Linked DNA regions of Homo sapiens: region 2 is linked to region 1. Evidence: fine-mapped expression QTL. A gene starts in region 1. The other region holds a variant in brackets. All regions are shown on one strand. Distances are between the middles of the regions.

The links. PIP is the estimated chance that this variant, and not a neighbour inherited with it, causes the effect.
Region 2: its variant is fine-mapped to the expression of ATP23 in monocytes after LPS (Kim-Hellmuth 2017, PIP 0.92).

Annotation. Positions count from the first base shown.
Region 1 is chr12:57,930,872-57,946,455 of GRCh38, reverse strand. It overlaps ATP23 (ATP23 metallopeptidase and ATP synthase assembly factor homolog), which reads right to left and starts at 4,889. Exons shown (of 6, transcript NM_033276.4): 1 at 4,568-4,889; 2 at 783-828. The coding sequence starts at 4,754. It overlaps GIHCG (GIHCG inhibitor of miR-200b/200a/429 expression), which reads left to right and starts at 10,292. Exons shown (of 3, transcript NR_038269.1): 1 at 10,292-10,617; 2 at 10,903-10,986; 3 at 14,719-15,007. RefSeq lists enhancers at 3,585-3,754, 4,211-5,020, 9,866-10,366, 10,367-10,867.
Region 2 is chr12:58,105,722-58,121,305 of GRCh38, reverse strand. No RefSeq gene overlaps it. Among named protein-coding and RNA genes, the nearest start is that of LINC02403, 26 kb to the right of the region's middle. The variant C/T (reference allele first, on the strand shown) is at 8,121.

The sequences.
Region 1 (15,584 bases):
AAAAAAAAATTTGTTCAACTGATTATGGCCATATTGCAAGTATGCTGGAGTTCCTGCCCTTGGGCCAGAATGTTAAGAAGTGGATGTCAGAAGTCACTTCCTTTAAACCCCTCAAAGTTATACAACATCTGCAAGGTTCCTACATAACAAGCTGAGATTTCTTTTCCATTAAAAACAGTGCTCAGGCTGGTGTAGCAGAAAGGCCAGGCTTGGTAATTACTTACAAGAAAATTTTGAGTACTGTCTTTATTAATCACCCAAGGTGAATGGTAAGAACTAGAAAATGAGCTGGGCTGGCGCAGTGGCTCACACCTGTAATCCCAGCACTTTGGGAGGCCGAGGTGGGTGGATCACTTGAGGACAGGAGTTCGAGACCAGTCTGGTCAACATGCTAAGACCCCATTTCTACTAAAAATACAAAAATTAGCCGGGCATGGTGGCGTGCGCCTGTAAACCCAGCTACTTGGGAGACTGAGGGAGAAGAATTGCTTGAACCTGGGAGACGGAGGTTGCACTGAGCCGAGACAGCACCAACGCACTCCCACCTGGACAACAAGAGCGAGACTCTATCCCCAAAAAAAAAAAAAAACATGAGTTAGGGCAGAAAATGTCCAAAGAGAACAAGGCCAGCCCGGAGACAATGCAGCCAATTACCTCTATTTACCCTATGGAAAAGACTTTGTGACCTCAGAGAAATCTTAAGCAGTTCTCTTAAGAAGAGAACTTGGTTTTTGTTTTCAGCAGCCAGACCTCAGAGCAGCACTTCAAAAAGAGTTACTTACCAACCTGAGTGTTTCATAGCATCAAGCAGAAGTTTGACATATGGATCTAAAAAAGATATTGATTTAATTAAGTAATTGGAAAAGTAGCACCAATTAAACTACCCAAATAGCAGTGTAAGATATTATCAAAAAGTAACTCACAGGCCAGATGCAGTGGCTCATGCCTGTAATCCCAGCACTTTAGGAGGTTGAGGCGGGTGGATCATTTGAGGCCAGGAGTTCAAGCCCAGCCTGACCAACATGGCAAACCCCGTCTCTACTAAAAATACAAAAATTAGCTGGGCATGGTGGCACACGCCTGTAGTCCCAGCTACTTGGGAAGCTGAGGCATGAGAATCACTTGAACCCAGGAGACAGACATTACAGTGAGCTGAGATCACACCACTGCACTCCAGCCTGGACGATAGAGTGACTCTGTCTCAAAAAAAAAGTAATGTTATCTTAAAATTGGTAAAAATTGACATGAGAGGCCAAGCTTAAATCAACATCAAAGCAAGTTTGTACTGAAATAAAACACTAATACAAATACCAAGATGGTACTACTAAGCATCTTAGACAATATCAACTATGCTTTTAAAGTTCATTTTTAGTTAAATGATCAAACACGTTGTATTACGGTATATACCAAAAGACTGAGGGAATCTAGGGCCACATTCTTAGAAGTGAACAACAGCACAGTACCTAGATTTGAGGAAGCCAGTAGCCACACTGTTCTGTCCTGATCAGATCATACCGGCAATACCATGTCCCATGCTGAGTACTACCACCTTCTAAATTGGACCTGCCACTGAAGCTCTTCCACAGGGGATGGTGACTAGGGTACTACAGACTATTTCCAGTAAGAAGCAAGAAAGGATTTGGGGGGTTGGAAAGGAGACAGAAGACTTAACTAGGACCACACTACTTTCAAGTATTGAAGGGGTGCCATGTGGGACTAGATTCAGTTAATATTTCTTCAAAGGGCAGAACAAGGACCAAAGTATGGAAGTTACATGTGGCAGATTTCAGCTCAGTATGAGAAAGGATTTTTCTCCAACAATTAAAGCTGGTGAAACAATAGACAGTAGATTGAAAGAGCCTCAAGGAACAGGTAACTGTATTCCAGGAGAGGTCTGTAGAGTATCTGGCCAGCAATAGCACAGAGGTTTCCCTGTAAGGGGACGGGGAGGCCTAGACGATTCCTGAGGGCCCTTCCACATCTAAGACTCTATGGGCCCGTGACTACTACAGGAAAGTACAAGGAGCCCAAATGCCTCTGATATTAACTTTTCACATAGGCATCTTGTCTGAGAATATAAATGCACAGCCAATTATATGATGTAACCCAAAAAAAGTGAAAAAGAAACTAAGGTTTAAAAAAAATGTTGAAGGCAAAAATAGGTGAGAAAAAGAAATGTGAGATGAGAAAGTCAGGTATAGGTTACTGCTTTACCAACCTGCCCCTTGCAAGAGTGTTCACAGTAGAATAATTATTGTTAACAATACGTATTATTGAGTGAATACCAGGTAGCAGGCACCATATTAAGCACATTATTATTCATGCAACTAGGAGAATTTTACAAAATTAAAACAGTTTCAAAAGTCTGTAGTCCTTGTACTTAAAAAAAAAAAAAACCATGGTTTAGTACTTCAAAAAGGACCTGCAGCAATATTTAGAATAAAATTGCTTTGGTGAAAAAAAAAAAAAAAAAAGAGACTCCCATGAGGTCTGGTTTCCACCACCACGCCCCACCCAGGGATAGCATTTTAAAGCTGCAGGTTGACACTTTAATACCACCAAAAGACCCTCCCAGCCACCCTGCCCTTGGAAGATCAAGGTCCATTGATTCCTACTGGGGCTCATGTTCAGCACCCCACCTTCCTCACATCCTATCTATTTCCACTCTTCCTCCACTGTGTGGCCCTTCCACTGTAAAAACAGCTACCATTTATTCAGCTCAGCTCCTGATATGCTGGTACTTTACATTCATAAAATCAGTACTTTTTTTTTTTTTAGACAGGGTCTCGCTCTGTTGCCCAGGCTGGAGTGCAGTGATGCAATAACAGCTCACTGCAGCCTCAGCCTCCTGGGTTCAAGCAAATCTCCTGCCTCAGCCTCCTAAATAGTTGGGACTGCAGGCATGAGCCACCACATCCAGCTAATTTTTTTTATTTTTTGTAGAGACAGGGTCTCCCTATATTACCCAGGCTGGTCTTAAACATCTGAGCTCAAGCAATCCCCCTGCCTTGGCTCCCCAAAGTGCTGAGATTACAGGCATGAGCCACCGTACCCAGCCCCATAAAATCTATTCTTCACAACAACCCTAAAAAAGGTATTTTCCCCTTCTCTTTTTTTACAATAAGGATAGTGAGGATCAGAGAAGTTAAGTCACCTTCCACACCTGAGGAAAGGGATCCGCATTTGAACCCACATCTAACTCTGCAACCCATACTCTTTCCACTCTATTCCACTTTGAAGCACCTTCAAGGCAGGGTGCTAACTCATCTTTCTACTTCCCCCACCAGAACCTGGGAGGCACTCAATACATATTTGTACAGTAAATACAATATCATCATTCTCTCCCCTTTTACCCTCAACTCCCCTTCCTCCTCCTACCTCCCTGAGTCTCTACAAGCAGGTAATCCCAAGAAGGTTGGAAAATCTTTCGGTGGTTGACTTTTGAACTGTGACTGACTAGCTATGAAATAGTAACCTTGCTTTGGGACAAGTATGTTTAAGACTAATTTTCTGAATGTATCTGAAAGTAAACTTAAGAAGTCTATGTCAATGTAAAGGAATTAAGAAATCTTCTCTAGTGCAATGTCTCTGGGACGGGAGAGAAATTTGTCAATGGGCAGTTGTGTCCCTGTTTAACCCACAGCAGTTCTTAACCTTTGTGGGGTCGTTGGCCTCTTTGAGAATATGATGAAGCTATTAACTCTCTCCCCCGACCAAAAAAAAATACACTTTGGGCCGGGCGCAGTGACTCACGCCTGTAATCCCAGCACTTTGGGAGGCCGAGGCAGGCAGATCACGAGGTCAGGAGATCAAGACCATCCTGGCTAACACGGTGAAAACCCGTCTCTACTAAAAATACAAAAAATTAGCAGGGTGTGGTGGCGAGCGCCTGTAGTCCCAGCTACTCGGGAGGCTGAGGCAGGAGAACGGCGTGAACCCAGTAGGCGGAGCTTGCAGTGAGCAAAGATCGCGCCACTGCACCCCAGCCTGGGCGACAGAGCGAGACTCCGTCTCAAAAAAAAAAAAAAAATGCACTTAGGGGCACACACACACACATACACACGATTTCACAGACCATTTCAGGGATTTCTACGCTCTGAAGCCCATTCATGCATGAACCACTTCCAAGGAACGGTAGGTTTGCAAAACTGCTTTTATATTTTTACAGCCTTGGTATGCCTTAATTACATTTTTACATTTTTACAGCCTTTGTGTGCCTTAATTAACCTGGCTGGCACTTTAAAACTTGGCCTCACCCTTACCCTGAAGTCACAGTGTGGCTGCATAACTTATGTAAGAAATCGGAGGATCTGTCACAACAGTGAGTGACAAAAAAGGGCAGACAAATTCATTCCACAAGCCAAAAACAGCGACGAAAAGGGTCTCAGCGCCACCTCTAGTGGGGAAACTGAGCCTCAGGCTCCCAACCCAGCCCCCATGATGCCCAGTCTGTCTAGACTCTGTGCTGAACCTGAAGCCCCTGGCCAGGTGTTGCCCAGGCCCTTCCTCGCCCACCCGGTCTCAGACCCATTCTGTGGAACCACAGCCTCCAGGTCATGGCTCCTACTTGTCTCCAGCGTCTTCAGGAGCCTAAGCTGGCACTTCTGGTTGCTGGTGAAGAAGCTGGAGAAGAACCCTTGCTGGGGATTCCCCTGGGCCAGACGCTCGGGGAAGACCTGGCAAGAGACGTGTTGCTGCTGCAGCTGCTCCCCTGCCGCGGGGCCCCGCCGGCGCTCGTCCGGAGCTCCCGCCATGCCTCCCGCAGACCTCGCCGCTGCTTCCTCCTGGCTCAGGCGGCCAGAGCGAGACTGGGAAAGGTAACCTCCCTCCCGCCAACGCGACCGCCCAGGCCCTCCCTCCGCAGGGAAGAAGGGCAGCCTGGCTGGGCTGAAGACGTTAGGCGGGAGGGGGCTTTGAACCTGACGGGGAGCGCGGGAGGCGGGGCGAGAGGCGAGGGGCGGGGCGAGAGGCGAGGGGCGGGGCGAGGGATGAGGGGCGGGGCGAGGGCATGGGGCGGGGCGCGGGGCCCGATGCTGTTGGGCGGAGCTGGGTCTTGCGACTTCCCTCAAAGGCTGTAACAACCCGGCTGCCGCGGATTTCGCTGCTGCCCTCCCAGTGTGGGTGACATGTCTTTATAAGCGTTGTTCTGCAGCTTCCTGCTGCCTGCTGAGCTCTAAGGGTGTCCCGCCTCCTCGCAGACACTCCTTCCTCACCTCGGGGCGAATATTGGCCACTAACTGCTCTTGTGCCGCCGAAGGTCTCGGCCATCCTCCCACTCCCTGCCTTCTTCCGGGGCAAGCCAGTTGTCATTTCTGGCCCGCCACTTTCCCGACCCCTGCCATCCCTCAGATCCACTCTGCCCAAAGATGCCTCTGGCCATATTGAAAGCAGTGTTTTTCAGAAACGTTTTAAAACTATAAAGAATGACTAGTCACATCAAAATCCTCAAAATGTAGGAACCAACTACATTTTTTCTTCCCACCTGTACCCATTCGTTTACCCTACTCTTCTGCCCCACCCCCCACCAATAACTCCCTGATAACAAAGCGCACCCTGTTTACTTCTACCTCTCAGCCTTAACTCATACTGTCATTTCCATCTTTAAGCTCCTTGCCTCAGCCCCTATGATTGGGGCCCAGGTCAAATCTGCCTACTCCACAGGGCATTCCCAGATACCTTAATCAAAATTAATGTCTCCTGATCTCCCAATGTACAAAGCACTTTGTACCTGTTAATCATTTTCATCGTAGCCTGCCAGGTTTTATCCAATTTGTGTGTTTCTCTTTTCCTACTAAATTATTCCACTCAGCTCACACATTTATTCAGCACCTACTATGATGGGCCAGGCAAGGTGTAAGAGACTGAGGAAACACATGACTAAGAAAATTGCTAAAGATGAAGAGCAGCATGTGGTTTATGTAAGAAACATATCTGAAAAATATAGGCTCAGCAGGCCTTTAGGGTTATGAACAGTGCTTTATGTGTCATAGATGCTCAATATCTAAATTGAGTGGGATGCTAGGATAGTCATTCATCTGGAATATTATAAAAATACAAACAACTCCTATGTACATAGACTATTAAAGCCAGAAGTCAAAAAAAAAGTAACTACTTTTTAATTAAATTCACCTTGGATACATTATTTCCAATCCTCACTACAACCCTGCAAAGTAAGTATTATCTCTAATTTGCAGATAAAGTGGGCTCAGCAAAATTCAATAATTTATCTAGGACCACACAACTAGCTTTCAATCCAGTTATTGAACTAAAACACACATATGGAAAACTAAGCCATTACAATTCAGTGTGATTAGTTTGGAATACTGAAGGCAGGCTAGATATGCCTAGAAATGGACCATAGCCTATATACATTTGAAATACTATTTGGATTTTTTTCATGCTTTCTTTTTTAATACATAGATTCAGGTGGTTTATGTGTAGGTTTATTATACAGATATATTGTGTAGTGGTGAGGTCTGGGCTTCTAGTGTACCCATCACCCAAACAGTGAACATTGTACCCAATAGTTAATTTTTCAACCCTCACCCTTCCCCTCCCACTCTCCCCACTTTTGGAGTCCCCAGTGTCTATTATTCCCCTCTGTATGTCCACGTGCACTCAGTCTTTAGCTTCCACTTATAAGTGAGAACATGGGGTGTTTGATTTTCTGCTTCTGAGTTATTTCACTTAGGATAATGGCCCCCAGCTCCATCCATGTTGCTGCAAAAGACATGATTTCATTATTTTTATGGCTGCATAGTATTCCGTGGTGTATGCATAACCACATTTTCTTTAACCATCTGTTGGTGGACACTTAGGTTAATGGTTGATTCTATGTCTTTGTCTTTTTGTCATAACAATTTCTTCTTTTTTTTTTCTTTTTCAGAGACAGGTTCTTGCTCTGTCACCCAGGCTGGAGTGCAGTGGCGTAATCATAGCTCACCACAGCCTTGAATTCTTGGGCTTAAGCAATCCTACCACCTCAGTCTCTCGAGTAGCTAGAACTACTGGCATGCACCATCATGTCTGGTTAACTTTTTAATTTTTTGTAGAGATGGAGGTTTTTTGCTATATTGCTCAGGCTGGTCTCAAACTCCTGGCATCAAGTGATCCTCCTGCCTCAGCCTCCCAAAGCTCTAGGATTACAAGCATGAGCCACCACACCCAGTCACAATTTGTTTTCCTTTGGGTAGCCAGTAGTGAGATTGCTGGGTCAAATGGTAGTTCTATTTTTAGTTCTTTGAGAAATCTCCATACTAGTTTCCACAGAGGTTGTACTAATTTACATTCCCACCAACAGTGTATAGGCAATCTCTTTTTTCTGAATTCTCATCAATATCGGGTTGTTTTTTGACTTTTTAATAATAGTCATTCTGACTGGTGCAAGATGGTATCTCACCGTGGTTTTAATCTGCATTTCTCTGATGATTAGTGATGTTGAGAAGTTTATCATGTTTATTAGCCACTTGTATGTCTTCTTTTGAGAAATGTCTATTCCTGTCTTTTGCCCACTTTTGAATAGGGTTATTTAGTTTTTTCTGGTTGAGTTCCTTGTAGATTCTGGATATTAGTCCTTTGTTGGATGCACAGTTTGTAAATATGTTCTTCCATTCTGTAGGTTATTTGATTCTTTATCTTACTATGCAGAAGCTTTTTAGCTTAATGAAACTCATTTGTCTGTTTTTGTTTTTGTTGCATTTGCTTTTGAGGACTTGCTCATAAATTATTTGCCTAGGTCAATCTCCACAAGAGTTTTTCCTAGGTTTTCTTCTAGGGTTTTTATTGTTTCAGGTCTTAAATTTAACTCTAATTCATCTTGAGTTAATTTTGGTATATGGTGAAAGAAAGGGGTGCAGTTTCATTCCTCTGCATGTCTATCCACTTTGTGTAGCACCATTTATTAAATAGAGTGTCTTTTCCCATTATATGTTTTTGTTGTCATTGTCTAAGATCAGTTGGTTGTAGGTATGTGGCTTTATTTCTGGATACTATTTGCAATACCCTTCAGCTACAGGAATAAGTAAAAACGTACAAACCAAAAGCTGCAACATTTCCTTACTAAATTAGCTAAAACTGTTTCAATACTCATTGTTGAAGAAACAGATGGAAAAAAATTCATACCACAGTATCAATGGTTGTCTAGGTATTGGAATTTTTTTGTTACATTCTCCTGAAATTTTCTAATGTTCCTCAATAAGCATGTATTACCTTTATAATCAGAAAAATAAACTTTAAAAAATCAAGTGGGCTTTGGATGCCATGTGTAACTTCATCTGTATACAGTATAAAGACATAGGTATGGAATAAAAACACATTAAGGAAGAGATAATGAACAGCAAATACAAATGAGTTTTAAAAAGAAAAAGAATTACCACAAAGAAATTAGAGCAAGGGCAAAGATTTAGCTATAAGGATTTTCATTTCTCCATTGCAGCACTAATTGAGAGCAAAAATGGCCAGGCCAGTGGCATGTAATCATAGCTATTTGGGAGGCTAAGGCAGGAGGACTGCCTGAGCCCAGAAGTTCAAGACCAGCCTGTGTGATACAGCAAGACACCTCCTCCTCAAAAAAAAGGGGCGGCAGGGGAAGACATCAATTGTTTAAATATCCAACAAGAGGTATAATGGAATATATACAACCATGTTAAGTGTCTTTTTTAAACAAAATATGTTCATTAAAAGTTTTTGGGTGTTTTGTTTTGTTTTTTTGTTTTTTTGTTTTTTGAGCCAGAGTCTTGCTCTGTCGCCCAGGCTGGAGTGCAGTGGCGCCATCCCGGCTCACTGCAACCTCTGCCTCCTGGGTTCAAGCAATTCTCCTGCCTCAGTGAGCTGGGATCGCGCCACTGCACTCCAGCCTGGGCGACAGAGCAAGACAACAGCTCAAAAAAAAAAAAAATTCAGGCTGGGCGCGGGTGGCTCATGCCTGTAATCCCAGCACTTTGGGAGACCGAGGAAGGCAGATCACTTGGGATGAGGAGTTCGAGACCAGCCTGACCAACATGGTGAAACCTCATCTCTACTAAAAATACAAAAATTAGCTGGGTGTGGTGGCGCCGCCTATAATCCCAAGCTACTCAGGAGACTGAGGCAGGAGAATTGCTTGAGCCCAGGTGGTGGAGAGGTTGCAGTAAGCCGAGATCGGGCCACTACACTGCAGCCTGGGCAACACAGTAACTTTGTCTCAAAAAAAAAAAAGTTTTTTAAGTTCCAAACTAGCATATACAGTATGATTCCATTTTGAATTTGTACTTACTATAATTCATAGAAAGGGTCTGGAAGACTCCTACAAAGTATTCACATTGGTTGTCCTTAAATGGGTAGGATTTGGAGGTTTTGTGTTTTGGGGGTTTTTTTGGCCTTCATTTTCTAAAGCAAAAATAATTGCTTTTTTAATGGGAACTAAATTATTTAAAATTGTATAAATCTATCACAGTAACAAATAAATTACATATAATTGTAAAGAGTTTACCACCTGTCAGCTGTGAAAGTTGATCATATAAATCGGGTCACTTTTGTCATACCAGTTAAAGAGTGGAGAGGCCAGAGGGAAAAAACATTCAGGTCACAAATATCACTTGAAAAATATAATTCTCTACAGGCCTGGCTGCTGAAACTGCCTGCTAACACTTAAAACCAATTTAATCTAAAGGCTACTAAGACAGTCTGCTACAATTCTAAGACTAATTTTACCCACCACCGTCACTCAGCAATCAGTTTGCCAACCCCACCAAAACATTAATAGTGCCAATAAACTCTCTTGGAGACCAATACGTAACATTTCTCCTTCTTATAAAGTCTCTAACCTCTTCACTCTTCAGACATCCCGAAGACCACCCCAGTCTACATATATGCCCCAAATTACTATTTTCTTCCCAAATAAAGCATTCTAATTTCAAAGATTCATCTCTATATTCTGACTTAACAGCTTTTAACACTTAATGCTGTTTTTTAGTTGACAAATAAAAATTATATTTATAGTATAAAACATGTTTTGAAATATATATACATTGTGGAATGGTTAAATAAAGCTAACATGTACCCTTCGGCTTTTTAAAAACTAACGTCCAATTCATCCAATTCCGTGAGAGTAAAGCCTTTGCTTAGCTTTCCAGTCCTGTTAAACGGGGGGGAAACAACAAAAGGGTCCTCAGGGCCCTGCCCAACAATACGCCACATTCTGTCTAGTAAAGCCACACAGCCAGAAAACGCCAGGTGACTGGCAGGCAGATACTTCCGGAAGAAGTCGGCCCTCCGAACCCGGAAGTGAAGCGATAAGACGCACGGTGTTCTGGGAGGAGTTACGCAGGCAGGGTTGTGGTTGCTGGCTGTTACCAGGACAACCGGAGGCGATTGACCGTTATCTGCGGTTTGGAGCCGTTAGCGGGAGAGGCAGAGATATTCAGAGGTCTTTTAGGATGCGCTAAAGGGTCGTGAGGGCTCTCTTAAAATTTTCTTCACAAGCGGTTATCCAGTCGTGCCCCGCGGCCCTGCTGCTGGCCCCGGGGATCTGAGTCGTACCCTCTTGTTTTTCTCTGAGTCAGTCTTAAGGTGAAATGAAGTGTGGCCCAGTGGCTCCTCACTGTCGCTTCTCTAGTTTTCTGCCTCCTTTTAGAAAATGTAAGTTGAGAATTTCTAATTTACATCGGGATGTGTTCTAATGCGCTTGTTTTTAAAACTGTGGAAAATTTTTAAAAGAAAATAAATCTCACCAGTCATCCAGCTACCCAGAAGTAACATTTTCATGCATTACCTATTAATTTTTTTCTCTGCATATTTTTTCATAGTTGAGATAATTTAGGGAAAACCATTTTGTGTCCTTCATATATGGATGAATACAATATAATTTTGGTATTAATATCATAGCAACAAAGAAGGCATTGAAGGCTTTAAATCTGTTTACAGTGAATTGAAAAGACAGGATGAAGTGGACACAGCATGTGAAGACAATTCTTTCAAGAAGTTTGGCTGTCAAGGAAAACAGAGAATGTGAGTAGCCAAAGCAGAATGACAGTGAAAGAAAGAAATTGGGAGCCAGACAATACAGCCCGACAGTTTACGCCTGTACGGATGTACCTCTTTCACAAAAGATTGAGTATGCTTGGGGAAAAAAAATACACACTATAATAGGAGAAAATGATGAAGAGAAACTGAGGTAAAGGTAATTGGAAAACAAAATAAAGCCAGGGGTATATTAATACCCCAAAACTTCATACCAAAAGGTCCGTGTATTTACTAGAGGGGTGCCACAAATTGGGCTCTGAGGTTCCTAGCAATTAAACCAAAGGGAAAATATAAGTTTAACATGATCCGTATGAGGGAGGAGGCCTAATGGCATATTATAGAATCCTGTTACACATTAGCTGTATGAAATTGATTGGGTAATGTAAGCTCTTTAGACCTCATTTCTCCGTCTCTTAAAGAGTGGGGAGAGGAAGCAGGAGACTGTTAGACGAGTTGATCTTTTAATATCTCTTCCACTACTGACAGTCTATGATCATATAGGCCAGAGACGGCAAACTCAGATGCCTAAATTAGGGACTAAGAAAGTTTCATAAGTGAGGAAATGGACTGAATGTGACAAAAGCAAGGAGTGATAGAGATTGGAATGTTAGAGTTGATTGAGCTGTCCCATCTAAAACTCCAGCCAATTCTTGCAAAAATAAGGACTCAGTGTTGCCTGATTTTTCAGGAGAAACAGGAAAATCATATTTTTGATAATATTATACAAAACAAAACACCTCTACTAGCTAGATACAATTTGTGGGTCACTAATTTTCAACCTCTGCTATAGGTGAAAGGACCTCAACAAGAGGGATAATTGCTTGAATTAAAGAATTAAATATGAAAAAGAGGAAGAAGTCAAAAAGAATACCAAGATTTCCCCTTGGTAATAAGAAGGAGTTAGTAACATTGATACTAAAATCAGCAGAAGGTTTGGGGAGAGAAGGTGCTTTATTGTGAGTTTCTTGAACATGGGGCAAACTTATTTATGTGTATCCATAGCACATGAATCCAATTCAGCTGCTGGATTTGAGAAATCTGTGGGATTTATCAGGGGAAAGGGCGCAGGAATGTAGGTCAGGAGTTTGGGGAAAGAAGATGAAAAAGGAGTTTAAGATGTAAGATTCATTCTTTCAATAAAGTTTTATTGATTATATATCACAATATGTATTTTCACGAGACTCTAAACTGTCTGAGGGCAGAAAGCACGGGGTTTTTTTTAACCACTTACCCAGCTCCTAGCACAATACATAGTCAGTGCTTATGTATGTTGAAAAAACAAATGAAAAAATACAAAACACTGTGCTTTACAGTATAGGAGATGCAGAGTTGAATTAGAAAATCTTAAGGGAACAAGAAACACTGGGGTCTGCTTGAGGGTGGAGGGTGGGAGCATGCAGAGGAGCAGAAAAAATAACTATTGGGTACTAGGCTTAATACGTGGGTGATGAAATAATCTTTACAACAAACCTTCATGTGTACCCCCAAACCTAAAATAAAAGTTTAAAAAGAAGAAAATCTTCTTAAAGAAGTTTATAGAGCAGGGGCCCCATCTCCTTAAAAAAAAAAAAAAAGAAAAAGGAAAAGCGACTTTATAGGCCAGAAAGTAAGACAAGTCTTAACACATAAGGAGCTAATGCAAGTTTTAAAGTAGTGCCATTAAAAAAAAAAAAGTACCATGGGATTCAGAAGGGAAAGATCTTTTTAGAAGAAGTTAAGAAGTTAAGCTCTGTCTTTCTAGATAGTGGACAGTTAGGATTAGATCACACAGGTGTTGGGAGAGGAACTGATCAGAAGCAGTTAAATAGAAGATGTAGGCTGGGTGTGGTGGCTCACACCTGTAATCCCAGCACTTTGGGAGGCTGAGGTACGTGGATCACTTGAGGTCAGGAGTTTGAGACCAGCCTGGCCAACATGACAAAACCCCGTCTCTACCAAAAATACAAAAATTAGCCGGGTGTGGTGGCGCACACCTGTAATCCCAGCTACATGGGAGGCTGAAGCAAGAGAATCACTTGAGCAGGGGAGGCAGCCACTGCCCTCCAGCCCGGGCAGCAGAGTGAGACTCTTGTCTCAAAAAAAAAAAAAAAAAAAAAAGTGTATACCCTTCTTTTGAAAGTATTTGAAACTGCCAAAAAAAAAAAAAAAAGAGTGAATAGTGAAACAGTTTGAAGCCAGAACCTTGAGAATCACCCACATATAAAGAAGGTGAAGAAGAAAAACCAACAAAGTAAACAGAGAAAAAGTCATCAGAAAGCTAAGAGAAACATCAGGAGAGTGGGTTTCATAGGAACTAAGATTCCGGGTTTCAAGAAGGAAAGTTCTGTCAATATTGTCAAATACTACAGAGACAGCAAGCCATCAAGGAGGGTCCAAGTTCATTGGATTTGATGATTAAGGAAATCACTGATGACTTTAAACAATTGGCCAATGAATATAAGAAGAGGAGGTATAAAAAGCAGTAGAATTGAAAGGCTTGTTGATTTGTTTAGGGAGGTGGGGAATGGGGTTCCTTAGGAGCAGGGGAAAAAAATAAAAGACAAGATTAAGCTGCAAAACAGGACAAATTTATGAAGCAAGATTTTGGAGAATCTAAGCAGTGATGAGATCAAGAAATGGAGGAAGAGTAACATCAAGAATAAGCATTATAATTCTAACAAATATTGTTCAATTACAAGTAACTTTTTAATGTCTATCATCATGTTTTCTTGCCCAATGGCCTGGTTTCTTTTCACCTTTAGCCCTAAAATAACTTCATAATCTAAAAAATAGTATTAGAACTTCAACTTAGTAATATTTCCTAATGTTGCTTTTAAATCCTCTTTTTATAAACAGGTATTATCAGCAGGGCGTGGTGGCTCACACCTATAATCCCAGCACTTTGGGAGGCCAAGGCAGCCAGATCACCTAAGGTCAGGAGTTCAAGACCAGCCTAGCCAACATGGTGAAACCCTGTCTCTACTAAAAATATAAAAATTAGCTGAGTGTGGTGATGGGCGCTTGTAATCCCAGCTACTCAGGAGGCTGAGGCAGGAGAATCACTTGAACCCAGGAAGCAGAGGTTGCAGTGAGCCGAGATCGCACCTCTGCACTCCCACCTGGACAACAGAGCGAGACTCCATCTAATAAATAAATACATAAATAGGTATTATGGTGTATAATTCCTGATTTTTCGGTTGCTCCACATCCCTTTCAGGAAACCACCACTCACCAGCCTTAGCTGGTTCAAGTGAGGCTGATTCCCAACTGCCCACACTGCCCCCATTCCTACACTTGATTCAGACCTGACCAATGAGAACCATCATTGGTACTTTTGCTGGTACTATTTATTTATATATATATATTTTTTTTGAGATGGAGTTTCGCTCTTGTTGCCCAGGCTGGAGTGCAATGGCGCAATCTTGGCTCACCACAATCTCGGCTCACCACAACCTCCACCTCCCAGGTTCAAATGATTCTCCTGCCTCAGCCTCCCAAGTAGCTGAGATTACAGGCATGCACCACCACATCCAGCTAATTTTTTTTTTTAGTAAAGACAGGGTTAATCCATGTTGGTCAGGCTGGTCTCGAACTCCCAACCTCAGGTGAACCACCCACCTCAGCCTCCCAAAGTGCTGGGATTACAGGCGTGAGCCACCGCACCTGGCCTGCTGGCACTATTAAAAAAAAAAAAAAAAAAAAAAAAAAAAAAACTCTCCCTCTGATGTTATATTGCAGGTGCTAAAGAACATACAGACACAGAGCAGACAGGCCACCTTTGCAACCACATGGAGGTTTGTCTGATATTGAAGCTAAAGAAGCTAAGCTGGAAGACAGAGAGACCAAGTCCTGATGACATTGTTTGAACCCAGAGATCCAGACATGCCTGAAAACTAGTTTTACCACTGGACTTATCCGTTGAATGAGCCAATAAACTCTCTTTTATACTTAACCTTGGGTTTTACCTGGATTTTTGTCATTGACAGCTCAAAATATTCTAATATAGAAGTATACATCATTAAATCAACATTTCTTTTTTTCTCTGTCTTATTTTAAATGTAACTCTATAAGGTACTCTAAAAGTATTCTACAGTCTCACTAAGTTAATCTGCAAATTTGGTAAAATTCCAATATTAATCCCAAAAGTATTTTAAGAGCTTGTTTTTGTTGTTTGCTTGTTTGGGACTAAACAGAATTACTCCAAAATTCATTGAGAGAAAAAAAAACATGAAAAAAAAAACAAGAAAATAGAATTCATAAAAGGAAATTGTATTATATAACAAAGCATAAAACAAGAATAATAAACATAGAGTGGTAATGGAATAAATAAACAGTCATGGAACAGAATTCAAAGCCTGAATATATCTAAGAGCACTTACCAAATTTAATATGTGGTACATCAAGAAAAGATTAATCCAGTAAAGTATATAAGTACATTGAGCTAGATTTAGAGGAGAAAGATAATTAGATCGTTACCTTATTCCCAGAATAAATTTCAAATGGATTTGTGACTTAAGTGTAAAAATTGAAGCCAGATTCTCAATATACATTGATTGGCATATAATTGGCACAGTCTTTAGCAATATCAATTAAATGTTAAATAT
Region 2 (15,584 bases), 170 kb before region 1:
CAATTTTTACAAGTTATGAACCTAAATAATAATTTTAAATTTCAAAACTGGACAAGAAGGAATCCTCAGAAATATTCCAACAAACATTTAAACTGCTGTAAGCAACACTGTTACTATGTCAAAATTGCTAAGTTTTTCTCTGCTATCACAAAAGAAGGAATTCATATTCTAAGCAAGATATGCCCTCCACTGATTCTTAGGTTCAGACATCCCATTACATGGTAGTTTTATTTAACTAAAGTACTTTGTAAATTAGAAAGTACTAAAAATGTTTTTGTCATTCCTGTTAGCTCTGTTCTATGCTAGTTTTCCATGGACTCATTATGTAAGTGCATTGCCTGCATTCCAAGGGAAACGAAGGTGACCCCATCTCTGAGGTTGTTTCTTTTGCATTTAACAAAAGTGGGCCTTTGGCATTATTTTTTTCTGGACACCCAGAATCCACACTTAAACCACTGAATTACAAATAAGTGTTCTGGAACAGGATCAGACAGTGCCAATTCTATCTTCAGCTCAAAATAAAGCTACTTTGATGTATTTTAACCTAGGTTCATAAATTAATTTTCAGAGAAAAATTCTTATTTTGAGGTGGAACAAATTTATGAAAGTCACATGTAATTAGCCAAATTATGAACAGTTTTTTATGACTCACTGGACTTTTAAAAGAAAAATGTTCTTATCAGAACACATTTAAAAGTGTATGATTATTCTACTGGTGCCAATTTCCCTGTTTTGATATTGAACTAGGGTTACATGTTCTTTACATAGATAAGGGAAGGTAGGTGAAGGGTACATGTGACTCTATACTATTTTTCCAACTTCCTATGAGTTTATATTTATTTCAAAATAAAAAGTCAGCAGCTTTTTATTTTGAATTAATAATCTGTCTAGTCAGTGATCTCCCCTGTAGTCTGTAGTTGCTTCCATCACACACACACACACGACAACTAGACATCATGTACTTCCTGATGGGAACACAGAGCACTGTCTAGGAAGGAGTCTTGCCAAAAGGCAACTATGAATCTGATCAAGCCTGCATCCAACTACTAATTCATGAGAAATACAAAGAACTGAGGAACATGCTAAAAGGCATCACAGAGATGCAGTCAGCAAGATCCAGACTGTAAGAAACTCTGCAGAACAAATGACCTCATTTCTTCAACCAATAAAACTGCAAGAGGAGACATTGAGACAGAGAGGCATAGGAATGGGGAGAGCCTGTAGATTAAAAAAGGCTTAAATGCACATCAATCAATCACAATGTGTGAAACTTAATGACATCCTGACTCAAGCAAAGAGTAACACTATTTAAACAAAGAGTAAGACAACAATTCTTTAATAAATAAATTTTAAAATTTATTAGATATCCTTTTTAGATATCTTTATCAATTCGTTAATATCATAGCTAATAAATTTTAAAATTTATTATATATAATTTATTAGATGTGTTATGATATTAAAGAATTGTTATTTTTAAATAAATGTTTTTAAAATATTAAATAAATTATCAGTGGGTCTAAATATACGTACATATATTATATATATATAACATTTTTCTTTAAGTCTATTAATGGCATCTTCCCAAATGCTTAAATTAAGTGCTTTTGTATGGCAGGTGCAGTTCCTGTACAGACAAAATAATGAACCAAAGCACTAGACAGCAGGGAGTACCAGGTCACCATGATGAAATGAAAAAAGAAGGCTGAGAATTAGACACTGGTTTAAATTTGTCCTCCTTTTCAAGTGAGATTCCACAGCTTTTCATTTGGAATATTAAACACTGCTTGGCAAAACTAAATACTACTATAGATCAGTTTCTTTCATCAGCCTGGGTGGTTCCAGATGCAGAATGAAAAATGCCCAACCAGAAAGCACTCGGCTCCATTAGCCTGAGATATGGTTGAGAAAAAACTTTGATTGCTGCTCTTGTTCTTAACGTGTTTATTACCTGGACAAATTGCCACCTCCACCTAAGTGTCCTGCAGTTCTTCTCAGCAAAAAAAAAGTGAGTGTTTTTAGGGAAGTGCTGACTAAATTTTGATTTTAGAAGTCTCAGTAAGTTAAGTGTGTTTCCCTGAAGCTCTTCCCACCAAAAAGGTGAGCTTTTTTAGAGAAGTGCTGACGAATTTTAATTTTAGAAGTCTTGATATGTTGCGTGTTTCCCCTTTGCCCAAGAATTTTTCTGCAAAACTGTTGACATCAACCTCTTACAAAAATATTTTTCTTCATTATATTCAATATTTTGGGGGAATTTGGTGGTAGAGTTCAAAGTTTGGTAAACATAGTTATCAGAAAACAGCTAAGATTTTATAAACACAATGAGCCTTCCTGAGCGTAGACTGAATTAGGGTGATTGCCTTAATCCTTCCATTTAAGAGAGATGATTAGCTTTAATAAAGAACTTGAGATGGCAGCAAGAGAGAGAAAAGGAGGTGGCTCTGATGGCTGATGTTTAAATCTGAGGAAGAACTATAAAGATATATATGGAATTCATTGCTTTGCATGTAAACCCATATACCAGCCTCCACCTGCCACCTACCCACCCATTCTAAGGTGACCTCCCTGCACTATATTTTTCCTTTCATCAGCTCCTGCAAGCAATTCAAGTTGTAGCTGCTTCTCTGCATCAGGAATAATTCATTCACTACCAACCACAGCCTGGAACTCCTGGACCACAACCCCTCCTGCTACCCCAACATAAGCGTCAGCAGACTGATGAATGGTGGCAGCCACATCACCCCTAAATATGGTTCTATGGGTCTATCAGAATTTGCTAAAAGGATTATTTGCAGCAATGCAAACAACCAGCAATTAAATGCTAAATATCCTGTTCTTCAATGAGAACACATGGACACAGGGAGGGGAACATGACACACCAGGGCCTGTCGGGGGGTGGGGGGCTAGGGGAGGGGATAGCATTAGGAGAAATACCTAATGTAAATGATGGGTTGATGGATGCAGCAAACCACCATGGCACGTGTATACCTATGTAACAAACCTGCACGTTCTGCATATGTATCCCAGAACTTAAAGTATAATAAAAAATATATATTTTGTTCTTAAAAGACCTTTAGCCATTCTGCTTAAATTAATTAATAAAAGAAATATTATTGATCCTCTACAATACATCAGATACTCTGCTGAGCTTAGGGGTTATAGTAGTCAGGGTTCAACCACCAGTAACAGAAACTGTACAAGCTAGTTTAAGGTGAGTGATTTGAAACAGAATTTCGATGCTCTAAAAACAAAAAATCATTAGAAAAACAGAAGAAGAAGGCTCCAGGCTGAGTTAGAAAACCCTGGGACTGTGCTGCTCAGATCTCTCTTCGAGAAAGAACCTGCCCTGAGATCAGTTGGCTGGCAGTTGCCACTTTCAGCACCTACCCCAGCATCCAGACGAGGCCACGCCTTACACAGCCTGCTCCAAACTGGTGACCCCAAGTCAGGGAGTAGTTAGTACAGTGGGAGTTCTAGAGCCAGGCTCCTCCTGCCCAGTGCAGGACCCCTCTGACAAGCAGGCTGTGCTTGGGTACTGTCCATCAGCCTAGCCGAGACTTTTCTCAGAGCTGCACTGCAATCCAGGTCTCTTCCTGCTCAACCCTCCTTCCTTCCCCTCTCATTTTATGGGTGATGTCAGAGCCTCATCTCCCTGCCCACTCCTGCTCCCTCCTGGCTTTATTCTTCACAGGCATTTTCCTCCATAAATCTCTCACATTTATTGGGAGAAATTTCCATCTTGACATCTGCTTCTCAGCCGACCTGAATTGACACACTAAACTTCCAGGAACAACTCCCTGAACAATGGGACAAAACTGATCCACCAAAGGAGCTACAATCCGCATGATCAGGAAGTGGGAAACTGGGTAGCCACCACCTCTACTGCTGGCTTCAAGGAATCCTCTGATACTGTCTGAGCCACCACATCCTGCTTCTCAACACTCATAAAGTTAGAGAAGAGGTTTTGAGGCTTCTACTAAGCTGCCATGATGGAAAGAAAAAAAAAAAAAAAACACAGGACCATGCTTACCAGGAAACAAATAACGGGAACAGCAGCAGAATCACAGCAACTTCCTCATAGTGTTCATGGTGGGTACTTCACATCACATAGTAACTCAGTGATCCATGGTCAATGTTTAATTTCTACTAAGGCCCACTAGCAAGCCAGGTGTTTCTCAAAAGAAGACTGGTTATTGGAAGAGGATGGCAGAGCTTTGTTTCAAAACCCTAAAGGCCTACACTAGTATTTATCTATAGGGGTCTGCCACGGACACTTCAAAAATCATTGAATGACTTGAGCCATATTTTTCTTATTGATTTTAGGAACTCTGTATGAACTGCAAAAAAAACCTTTGCCCAGTTACGTAGAGTTGAAATTATCTTCTCTTAAGTTGTGTCTTACCTTTTCATCCTATTTGTGTGCTTTTTAATGAACAGAAGTTATTTGTAATGTATAGTTTAATTTATCAGTCATTTCCTTTATGTACATGCTCTCTGTGTCTTGTTTTTAAAAACCTTTCCAACCCTGAGGAAATAAAAATATTCTCCAATATTTTTTTCCAAAAGTTTTAAACTTTCATCTTTAACATTTAGGTCCTTAACTGATTTTGTGTATGGTAAGAGTAGTAATGCACTGTTTCCCATAAAGACAGCATTTCCCACTGAGTGGTTCATTTTTCACCACTGATCTGAAATACATATTTTTTATTATATCTCTCCTTACATAGATGTGTCTGTTTCTGGACTCTCTATTCTGTTGCATTGTCCTATTGTCTACCCATGCACCAATGTCACATCATCTACAATATTATAGTACAATCAGTTCCCCAACCTCATGTTCTTCAGGAATATATTAGCTGTTCTTGGTTCTTTGCTTCTCAATTTCTATTTTAGAGTAAGTTTTTCAAGATTCACAAAAACACCTTTCCTTTTTTACTGAAATTTTATTAAATCTATTGACTAATTTGGAGATAGATTACTTCTTAATGATATTGAGTCTTCTTGTCTTTGAAAACGATATGGCTGCTCATTTTTAAATGTCTTTCAATAAAGTTTCATGATTTTTTCTATAAAGATTTCACACATCTTTGATGAGATTTTTACCTAGGTACCTTTTATTTTCTAAACTATTATAAATGCTAAGTGTTAAAATTTTGTTTTTTAACTATTCATTGTTGATGTATGGAAGTGTATTCGATTTTTGTATAATAGTCATATCAAGCAACCTTGTAAAACTCTTATTAAGTCTAATAATTTGTCTACAGACCCTTGGAAGTTAAGTTATAGCATTTAAAAATAGTTCTAATCTTTCTATATCTTCTCAAATTTTTATACTTTTTATTTCTCTTTTCTGGCCTGCTAGACTAGACAAGATATAAAGTTGAATAGAAGTGGTAATAGTGTACATTTTTGTCTTTTAAACAGAATTTTTTAACAATCCATCCTTACATATTGTGCCAGCTAATTACCTTTGTCTCAATAGCAAAAAGCAAAACAAAACAAATAATTCAATCAAAAAGTGGTCAAAAGATCTGAACATTTCTCAAAAGAAGACATACAAATGGCCAACAGTATATGAAAAAAATACTCAACACCTTTAATCGTTACGAAAATTCAAATCAAAACCATAACAGGATATCACCTCACTCTACTTAAAATGCCTTGTATCAAAAAGACAGGGAATAGATGCTGGTAAGGATGTGGAAAAAGAGGAACCCTCACACACTATTGGTGGGAATGTAAATTCATGCAACCAATATGGAGAACAGTATGGAGGTTTCTCAAAAAAGCTAAAAGTAGAACTTTCATGTGATGATCCAGCAATTTCACTACTGGGAATATATTCAAAATAAAGAAAATTAATGCCGGGCACGGTGGCTCACACCTGTAATCCCAACACTTTAGGAGGCCAATGCGGGCAGATCACGAGGTCAGCAACTTGAGACCAGCCTGGCCAACATAGTGAAGCCCCATCTCTACTGAAAATACAAAAATTAGTGGGGAGGAGCCAAGATGGCCGAATAGGAACAGCTCCGGTCTACAGCTCCCAGCGTGAGCGACGCAGAAGACGGGTGATTTCTGCATTTCCATCTGAGGTACCGGGTTCATCTCATTAGGGAGTGCCAGACAGTGGGTGCAGGTCAGTGGGTGCGTGCACCATGTGCGAGCCAAAGCAGGGCGAGGCATTGCCTCACTTGGGAAGCGCAAGGGGTCAGCGAGCTCCCTTTCTGAGTCAAAGAAAGGGGTGACAGACGGCACCTGGAAAATCGGGTCACTCCCACCCAAATACTGCGCTTTTCTGACGGGCTTAAAAAACGGCACACCAGGAGATTATATCCCGCACATGGCTCGGAGGGTCCTACGCCCACGGAGTCTCGCTGATTGCTAGCACAGCAGTCTGAGATCAAACTGCAAGGCAGCAGCGAGGCTGGCGGAGGGGTGCCCGCCATTGCCCAGGCTTGCTTAGGTAAACAAAGCAGCCTGGAAGCTCGAACTGGGTGGAGCCCACCACAGCTCAAGGAGGCCTGCCTGCCTCTGTAGGCTCCACCTCTGGGGGCAGGGCACAGACAAACAAAAAGACAGCAGTAATCTCTGCAGACTTAAATGTCCCTGTCTGACAGCTTTGAAGAGAGCAGTGGTTCTCCCAGCACGCAGCTGGAGATCTGAGAACGGGCAGACTGCCTCCTCAAGTGGGTCCCTGACCCCTGACACCCAGGAAGCCTAACTGGGAGGCACCCCCTAGCAGGGGCACACTGACACCTCACACGGCAGGTTATTCCAACAGACCTGCAGCTGAGGGTCCTCTCTGTTAGAAGGAAAACTAACAAACAGAAAGGACATCCACACCAAAAACCCATCTGTACATCACCATCATCAAAGAACAAAAGTAGATAAAACCACAAAGATGGGGAAAAAACAGAACAGAAAAAGTGGAAACTCCAAAAAGCAGAGCACCTCTCCTCCTCCAAAGGAATGCAGTTCCTCACCAGCAATGGAACAAACCTGGATGGAGAATGACTTTGATGAGTTGAGAGAAGAAGGCTTCAGACGATCAAATTACTCTGAGCTACGGGAAGACATTCAAACCAAAGGCAAAGAAGTTGAAAACATTGAAAAAAATTTAGAAGAATGTATAACTAGAATAACCAATACAGAGAAGTGCTTAAAGGAGCTGACGGAGCTGAAAACCAAGGCTCAAGAATTACGTGAAGAATGCAGAAGCCTCAGGAGCCGATGCGATCAACTGGAAGAAAGGGTATCAGTGATGGAAGATGAAATGAATGAAATGAAGCGAGAAGGGAAGTTTAGAGAAAAAAGAATAAAAAGAAATGAGCAAAGCCTCCAAGAAATATGGGACTATGTGAAAAGACCAAATCTACGTCTGATTGGTGTACCTGAAAGTGATGCAGAGAATGGAACCAAGTTGGAAAACACTCTGCAGGATATTATCCAGGAGAACTTCCCCAATCTAGCAAGGCAGGCCAACGTTCAGATTCAGGAAATACAGAGAACGCCACAAAGATACTCCTCGAGAAGAGCAACTCCAAGACACATAATTGTCAGATTCACCAAAGGTGAAATGAAGGAAAAAATGTTAAGGGCAGCCAGAGAGAAAGGTCGGGTTACCCTCAAAGGAAAGCCCATCAGAATAACAGCGGATCTCTCGGCAGACACCCTACAAGCCAGAAGAGAGGGGGGGCCAATATTCAACATTCTTAAAGAAAAGAATTTTCAACCCAGAATTTCATATCCAGCCAAACTAAGCTTCAAAAGTAAAGGAGAAATAAAATCCTTTACAGACAAGCAAATACTGAGAGATTTTGTCACCACCAGGCATGCCTTATAGGAGCTCCTGAAGGAAGCACTAAACATGGAAAGGAACAACCGGTACCAGCCGCTGCAAAATCATGCCAAAATGTAAAGACCATCGAGACTAGGAAGAAACTGCATCAACTAACGAGCAAAATAACCAGCTAACATCATAATGACAGGATCAAATTTACACATAACAATATTAACTTTAAATGTACATGGACTAAATGCTCCAATTAAAAGACACAGACTGGGAAATTGGATAAAGAGTCAAGATCCATCAGTGTGCTGTATTCAGGAAACCCATCTCA[C/T]GTGCAGAGACACACATAGGCTCAAAATAAAAGGATGGAGGAAGATCTACCAAGCCAATGGAAAACAAAAAAAGGCAGGGGTTGCAATCCTAGTCTCTGATAAAACAGACTTTCAACCAACAAAGATCAAAAGAGACAAAGAAGGCCATTACATAATGGTAAAGGGATCAATTCAACAAGAAGAGCTAACTATCCTAAATATATATGCACCCAATACAGGAGCACCCAGATTCATAAAGCAAGTCCTCAGTGACCTACAAAGAGACTTAGACTCCCACACATTAATAATGGGAGACTTTAACACCCCACTGTCAACATTAGATAGATCAACGAGACAGAAAGTCAACAAGGATACCCAGGAATTGAACTCAGCTCTGCACCAAGCGGACCTAATAGACATCTACAGAACTCTCCACCCCAAATCAACAGAATATACATTTTTTTCAGCACCACACCACACCTATTCCAAAATTGACCACATACTGGGAAGTAAAGCTCTCCTCAGCAAATGTAAAAGAACAGAAATTATAACAAACTATCTCTCAGACCACAGTGCAATCAAACTAGAACTCAGGATTAAGAATCTCACTCAAAACTGCTCAACTACATGGAAACTGAACAACCTGCTCCTGAATGACTACTGGGTACATAACAAAATGAAGGCAGAAATAAAGATGTTCTTTGAAACCAACGAGAACAAAGACACAACATACCAGAATCTCTGGGACACATTCAAAGCAGTGTGTAGAGGGAAATTTATAGCACTAAATGCCCACAAGAGAAATCAGGAAAGATCCAAAATTGACACCCTAACATCACAATTAAAAGAACTAGAAAAGCAAGAGCAAACACATTCAACAGCTAGCAGAAGGCAAGAAATAACTAAAATCAGAGCAGAACTGAAGGAAATAGAGACACAAAAAACCCTTCCAAAAATTAATGAATCCAGGAGCTCGTTTTTTGAAAGGATCAACAAAATTGATAGACCGCTAGCAAGACTAATAAAGAAAAAAAGAGAGAAGAATCAAATAGATGCAATAAAAAATTATAAAGGGGATATCACCACCAATCCCACAGAAATATAAACTACCATCAGAGAATACTACAAACACCTCTACGCAAATAAACTAGAAAATCTAGAAGAAATGGATAAATTCCTTGACACATACACTCTCCCAAAACTAAACCAGGATGAAGTTGAGTCTCTGAATAGACCAATAACAGGAGCTGAAGTTGTGGCAATAATCAATAGCTTACCAACCAAAAAGAGTACAGGACCAGATGGATTCACAGCCGAATTCTACCAGAGGTACAAGGAGGAACTGGTACCATTCCTTCTGAAACTATTCCAATCAATAGAAAAAGAGGGAATCCTCCCTAACTCATTTTATGAGGCCAGCATCATTCTGATACCAAAGCCAGGCAGAGACACAACCAAAAAAGAGAATTTTAGACCAATATCCTTGATGAACATTGATGCAAAAATCCTCAATAAAATACTGGCAACATGAATCCAGCAGCACATCAAAAAGCTTATCGACCATGATCAAGTGGGCTTCATCCCTGGGATGCAAGGCTGGTTCAATATACACAAATCAATAAATGTAATCCAGCTTATAAACAGAGCCAAAGACAAAAACCACATGATTATCTCAATGGATGCAGAAAAAGCCTTTGACAAAATTCAACAACCCTTCATGCTAAAAACTCTCAATAAATTAGGTATTGATGGGACGTATTTCAAAATAATAAGAGCTATCTATGACAAACCCACAGCCAATATCATACTGAATGGGCAAAAACTGGAAGCATTCCCTTTGAAAACTGGCACAAGACAGGGATGCCCTCTCTCACCACTCCTATTCAACATAGGGTTGGAAGTTCTGGCCAGGGCAATTAGGCAGGAGAAGGAAATAAAGGGTATTCAATTAGGAAAAAAGGAAGTCAAATTGTCCCTGTTTGCAGATGACATGATTGTATATCTAGAAAACCCCATTGTCTCAGCCCAAAATCTCATTAAGCTGATAAGCAACTTCAGCAAAGTCTCAGGATACAAAATCAATGTACAAAAATCACAAGCATTCTTATACACCAACAACAGACAGAGAGCCAAATCATGAGTGAACTCCCATTCACAATTGCTTCAAAGAGAATAAAATACCTAGGAATCCAACTTACAAGGGATGTGAAGGACCTCTTCAAGGACAACTACAAACCACTGCTCAAGGAAATAAAAGAGGGTACAAACAAATGGAAGAACATTCCATGCTCATGGGTAGGAAGAATCAATATTGTGAAAATGGCCATACTGCCCAAGGTAATTTACAGATTCAATGCCATCCCCATCAAGCTACCAATGACTTTCTTCACAGAATTGGAAAAAACTACTTTAAAGTTCATATGGAACCAAAAAAGAGCCCGCATCGCCAAGTCAATCCTAAGCCAAAAGAACAAAGCCGGAGGCATCACACTACCTGACTTCAAACTATACTACAAGGCTACAGTAACCAAAACAGAATGGTACTGGTACCAAAACAGAGATATAGATCAATGGAACAGAACAGAGCCCTCAGAAATAACGCCGCATATCTACAACTATCTGATCTTTGACAAACCTGAGAAAAACAAGCAATGGGGAAAGGATTCCCTATTTAATAAATGGTGCTGGAAAAACTGGCTAGCCATATGTAGAAAGTTGAAACTGGATCCCTTCCTTACACCTTATACAAAAATCAATTCAAGATGGATTAAAGACTTAAACGTTAGACCTAAAACCATAAAAACCCTAGAAGAAAACCTAGGCATTACCATTCAGGACATAGGCGTGGGCAAGGACTTCATGTCTAAAACACCAAAAGCAATGGCAACAAAAGACAAAATTGACAAATGGGATCTAATTAAACTAAAGAGCTTCTGCACAGCAAAAGAAACTACCATCAGAGTGAACAGGCAACCTACAAAATGGGAGAAAATTTTCGCAACCTACTCATCTGACAAAGGGCTAATATCCAGAATCTACAATGAACTCAAACAAATTTACAAGAAAAAAACAAACAACCCCATCAAAAAGTGGGCGAAGGACATGAACAGACACTTCTCAAAAGAAGACATTTATGCAGCCAAAAAACACATGAAAAAATGCTCATCATCACTGGCCATCAGAGAAATGCAAATCAAAACCACAATGGGATACCATCTCACACCAGTTAGAATGGCAATCATTAAAAAGTCAGGAAACAACAGGTGCTGGAGAGGATGTGGAGAAATAGGAACACTTTTACACTGTTGGTGGGACTGTAAACTAGTTCAACCATTGTGGAAGTCAGTGTGGCGATTCCTCAGGGATCTAGAACTGGAAATACCATTTGACCCAGCCATCCCATTACTGGGTATATACCCAAAGGACTATAAATCATGCTGCTATAAAGACACATGCACACATATGTTTAAGACACATGCACACATATGTTTATTGCGGCATTATTCACAATAGTAAAGACTTGGAACCAACCCAAATGTCCAACAATGATAGACTGGATTAAGAAAATGTGGCACATATACACCATGGAATACTATGCAGCCATAAAAAATGATGAGTTCATGTCCTTTGTAGGGACATGGATGAAACTGGAAATCATCATTCTCAGTAAACTATTGCAAGAACAAAAAACCAAACACGGCATATTCTCACTCATAGGTGGGAATTGAACAATGAGATCACATGGACACATGTGAAGGGGAATATTACACTCTGGGGACTGTTGTGGGGTGGGGGGAGGGGGGAGGGATAGCATTGGGAGATATACCTAATGCTAGATGATGAGTTAGTGGGTGCAGTGCACCAGCATGGTACATGTATACATATGTAACTAACCTGCACAATGTGCACATGTACCCTAAAACTTAAAGTATAAAAAAAAAAAAAAAAGAAAATACAAAAATTAGCTGGGTGTGGTGGCGGGCACCTGTAATCCCAGCTACTCAGGAGGCCGAGGCAGGAGAATCACTTGAACCCAGGAGGCGGAGGTTGCAGTGAGCCCAGACCGCGCCATTGCACTCCAGCCTGGGCAACAGAGCAAGACTCCATCTCAAAAAAAAAAAAAAAGAAAGAAAGAAAGAAAAATATATCAAAGAGATATCTCATTCTCATGTTTATTGCAGCACTATTCACAAATAGCCAAAATATGGAATCAACCTAAGTGATCATCAATAAATGAATGGATAAAGAAAATGTATGTATATGTACATATGTATGTGTGTATATGTACCTACACACACGCACACACACAATGGAATATTATTTAGCCATAAAAAATGAAATTCTGTCATTTGCAGCAACATGGATGGAACTGGAGGTCATCATATTAAATGAAATAAGCCAAGCACAGAAAAACACATATTGTATGTTCTCACTCATACGTGCAAGCTAAAAAAGTGAATCTCCTGGAATTAGAGATTGGTGGTTACTAGAGGCCCGGAAGGGGAAGGGGGAAGATGATAAGGGAAAAAAAGATTATAAATGTATTTACTATCACTGAACAGTACACTTTGAAATGGTAAAGATGACAAATTGCATATGGATATTTTCCCTGAATAAAAAAAAATAAAATTTAAGTGGAGTCAAGAGAAGGAGAAAGGAGCAGATATAATGACATAAGTCCCTGAATTCAGCTGTGTCTTAAGTCCATTCTTGTACATCCAGTTACATGAGTCAACAAATTATTTTTCTCCAAAACAAAAACAAGAAACAAGCAAACAAAAAAGGATCCATTTTGGCTAAAAAAAATCTATAGGCAAAATGTTGTTCATTATGTTCTTAAACTTTCTTTTTTAATTTCCACATCACCTATGGTTATGCTGTTTTGTTCACCCAAGCAACTTCTATTTGTGCCTTCTCTCCTTTTTTGATTGTTCTTCCCAGAGGAAGACTGTTAATTTTATTAATCTTTTCAAAAATACAACAGTTATCTTTCTTGAGTCTTTCTGTGGTATCTTTATTTACTTTTTCATTAATATATGCTATCTTTATTATAATCTTCCTCCTTGTTGAAGAAATTTGTTTTGCTACTATTTTTCTAATGTCTTAAGTTGCATGCTTAGTTCTTTAATTTTTAGCCTTTCTTCTTTTTTTAATATATACATTCATGGCTGTCCATTTTCTTCAAAGCGTTGTTTTGATGCATCTTATAAATTATTTGTTGTATATTCATTATTGCTCAATATTTTGTTTTTCACTATAATTTTTGCTTTAATCCATAAATTACATAAAGTATGTTCCAAAATTTCCTAAGACTGCTGGTGCAGTGATCTGTGAATGTCTGTTGGACCAATAACACAATTAGTGTTATTAAAATTTTCTATATCCTTTTTGATTTTTTAACTGCTGTATTAATTACTGAGAAAACTAGATTAAAATCTCCCACTCACCTACCAGATATGTCTGGCATGGTTGTCTCTTTACAGTTCTGTCAACTTTTGTTTTATGTATTTTAAAATGATATTAGTGTATATCAGTTTAAGTTTTTATATCTCCCTGGTGAATCGAAACTTTATTGTTATGTAGAAACCCTCTTCATCTCTAATACTCTTTTTCTTGAAGCCTCTTCTGTCTGACTTAATTTTGCTACATCATCTTTTTCTAATCATGTGGACTTTATTACAGTCTATGCTAAGAAATTGAAAATGGGTGACCATGTTCTGACCTCTTTGTTCAAGAGGCCCAAATGACTCCAGCCACATTTTTTTTTCCTTGATAGAATATGATAGCTTCTGAATTACTTACAGGTGGATTCTCCTTGCAGACAGCCTCCAGATAATCATATCTGCCATAACAGCAACATGGCAGGCTTTCCCACTCGGTGGTCCTACAAGCAGCCATAATAGCTTCTGTTCAGTGGCCCTATAAACTACTATATATCAATATGGGCATTGCTCCTTTATCTCTGGTGGCTAAATTGTTATTATCTGAAAGTTTGATTGACAGGATTCCATCTGCCCTGAGCACTGAGGCCCCAAAAAGGATCCTATAGTAACAATTACTTTTTATCCATTAAAACATACAAATAACCACTTCAAAAATGTCTTCAGTTGCAACAGTATCCTTTTACCAACTCATTTATCAAGTTCATTATCAACATGAATCTACTAACCTTACTTAAATAAGATTGCTACCATAGCTGATTAAACGAATGTGTTAGAAGACAGTTAAATGAACTTGAAGTTGGATATCAAAGAGCTTTTATTTTAATCATGCATCTGTGCATGATGGGCATGATGGCATACTGTGGGTATGAGACATGACAGAGATGACACCATAAAGTGGAAGGCAAAAGTATGCTTTAAAATCAAGCCTCAGTTGTGTTATTTGGCAGCTATGTAACCTTGGGCACGTCAATTAATCTGCCTTGCCCTAGATTTCTTCTTCTATAACATAGAGATACAAAGATCTACCTCAAAAGGTTGGTGTGGGGACTAAATTAAAATTTAAAGTATGTGAAAAAAATAGGTACTCAATAAATAAGTGTTCTCTTCACATTTCCTCCTAGTCTAGAGGAAAGAGCCATCTTGAAAGCACTGATCTAATTGAGCTGATGTCTGTCAAATGAAAATCCAGGCCCTTTTTTTTTTTGAAGAATCAGTCTTCTCCTACTACCCAGCAAACCAGTGGACCCAAAAGTTGAAACAAACTGATGACAGACAACAAGCATGAAGATGGCATATTTGATGGCACTTTGGTTCTTTTTCCCAGAAGGCTTATACAGTGACTTAGTCGGGAAGCTTTCCAGCTTCCAGCTCTTGAATGTGAAGTGTCATTGGCATGTCTGGCAGTAGTCTCTCATTCACTCCTCAATAAACAACATTGAATACAAAAGAGGCTGTGTAAAAACTCAAAAAAAAAAAAAGAATCAGTCTTCTAATAATGAACCAGTTTCACCCCTTTTCTAGCTTTACTGGATTCAAATCCACACCATCTCTAAGCGGAACACGGAACTGAGTTAAAGACCAAAGTCTTACAATGTCCATAGGATTGAACTATAAAATGAAACTTTTATCATCAGATTTTAAGTAACAAAACTCTGCTGGTATTCCTCCATGTTAAATAAATTCCATGCACACATTTTGGAATTGTTAAAGCTAAAATCTAATAATTATTACATAGCCCAAAACCTCCTAGAGAGTTTTAAAGCTAGAATTCAGATGTTAGAGAGCAGCACCTGGTGGCAAGTTGTGATACTGGAGTCCACTGAGTCATTTAAGAAGTCAAACCACTGTGGCCACTGAAAATTCCAGTGACCCAGAAGCAGTTCTACATTCAGAGAGCAATCTTCCTTCCCATCTCTCTGTCACCCATTCCTGCCCCCTCCCCACCGACCGTGGAATCACCAAGACCCATCAATTTGCCTCCCAAGCAGCTCACAGAGTCTTCCATGTTTCATCCCCATGCTCACTGCCCCAGTACAGGCC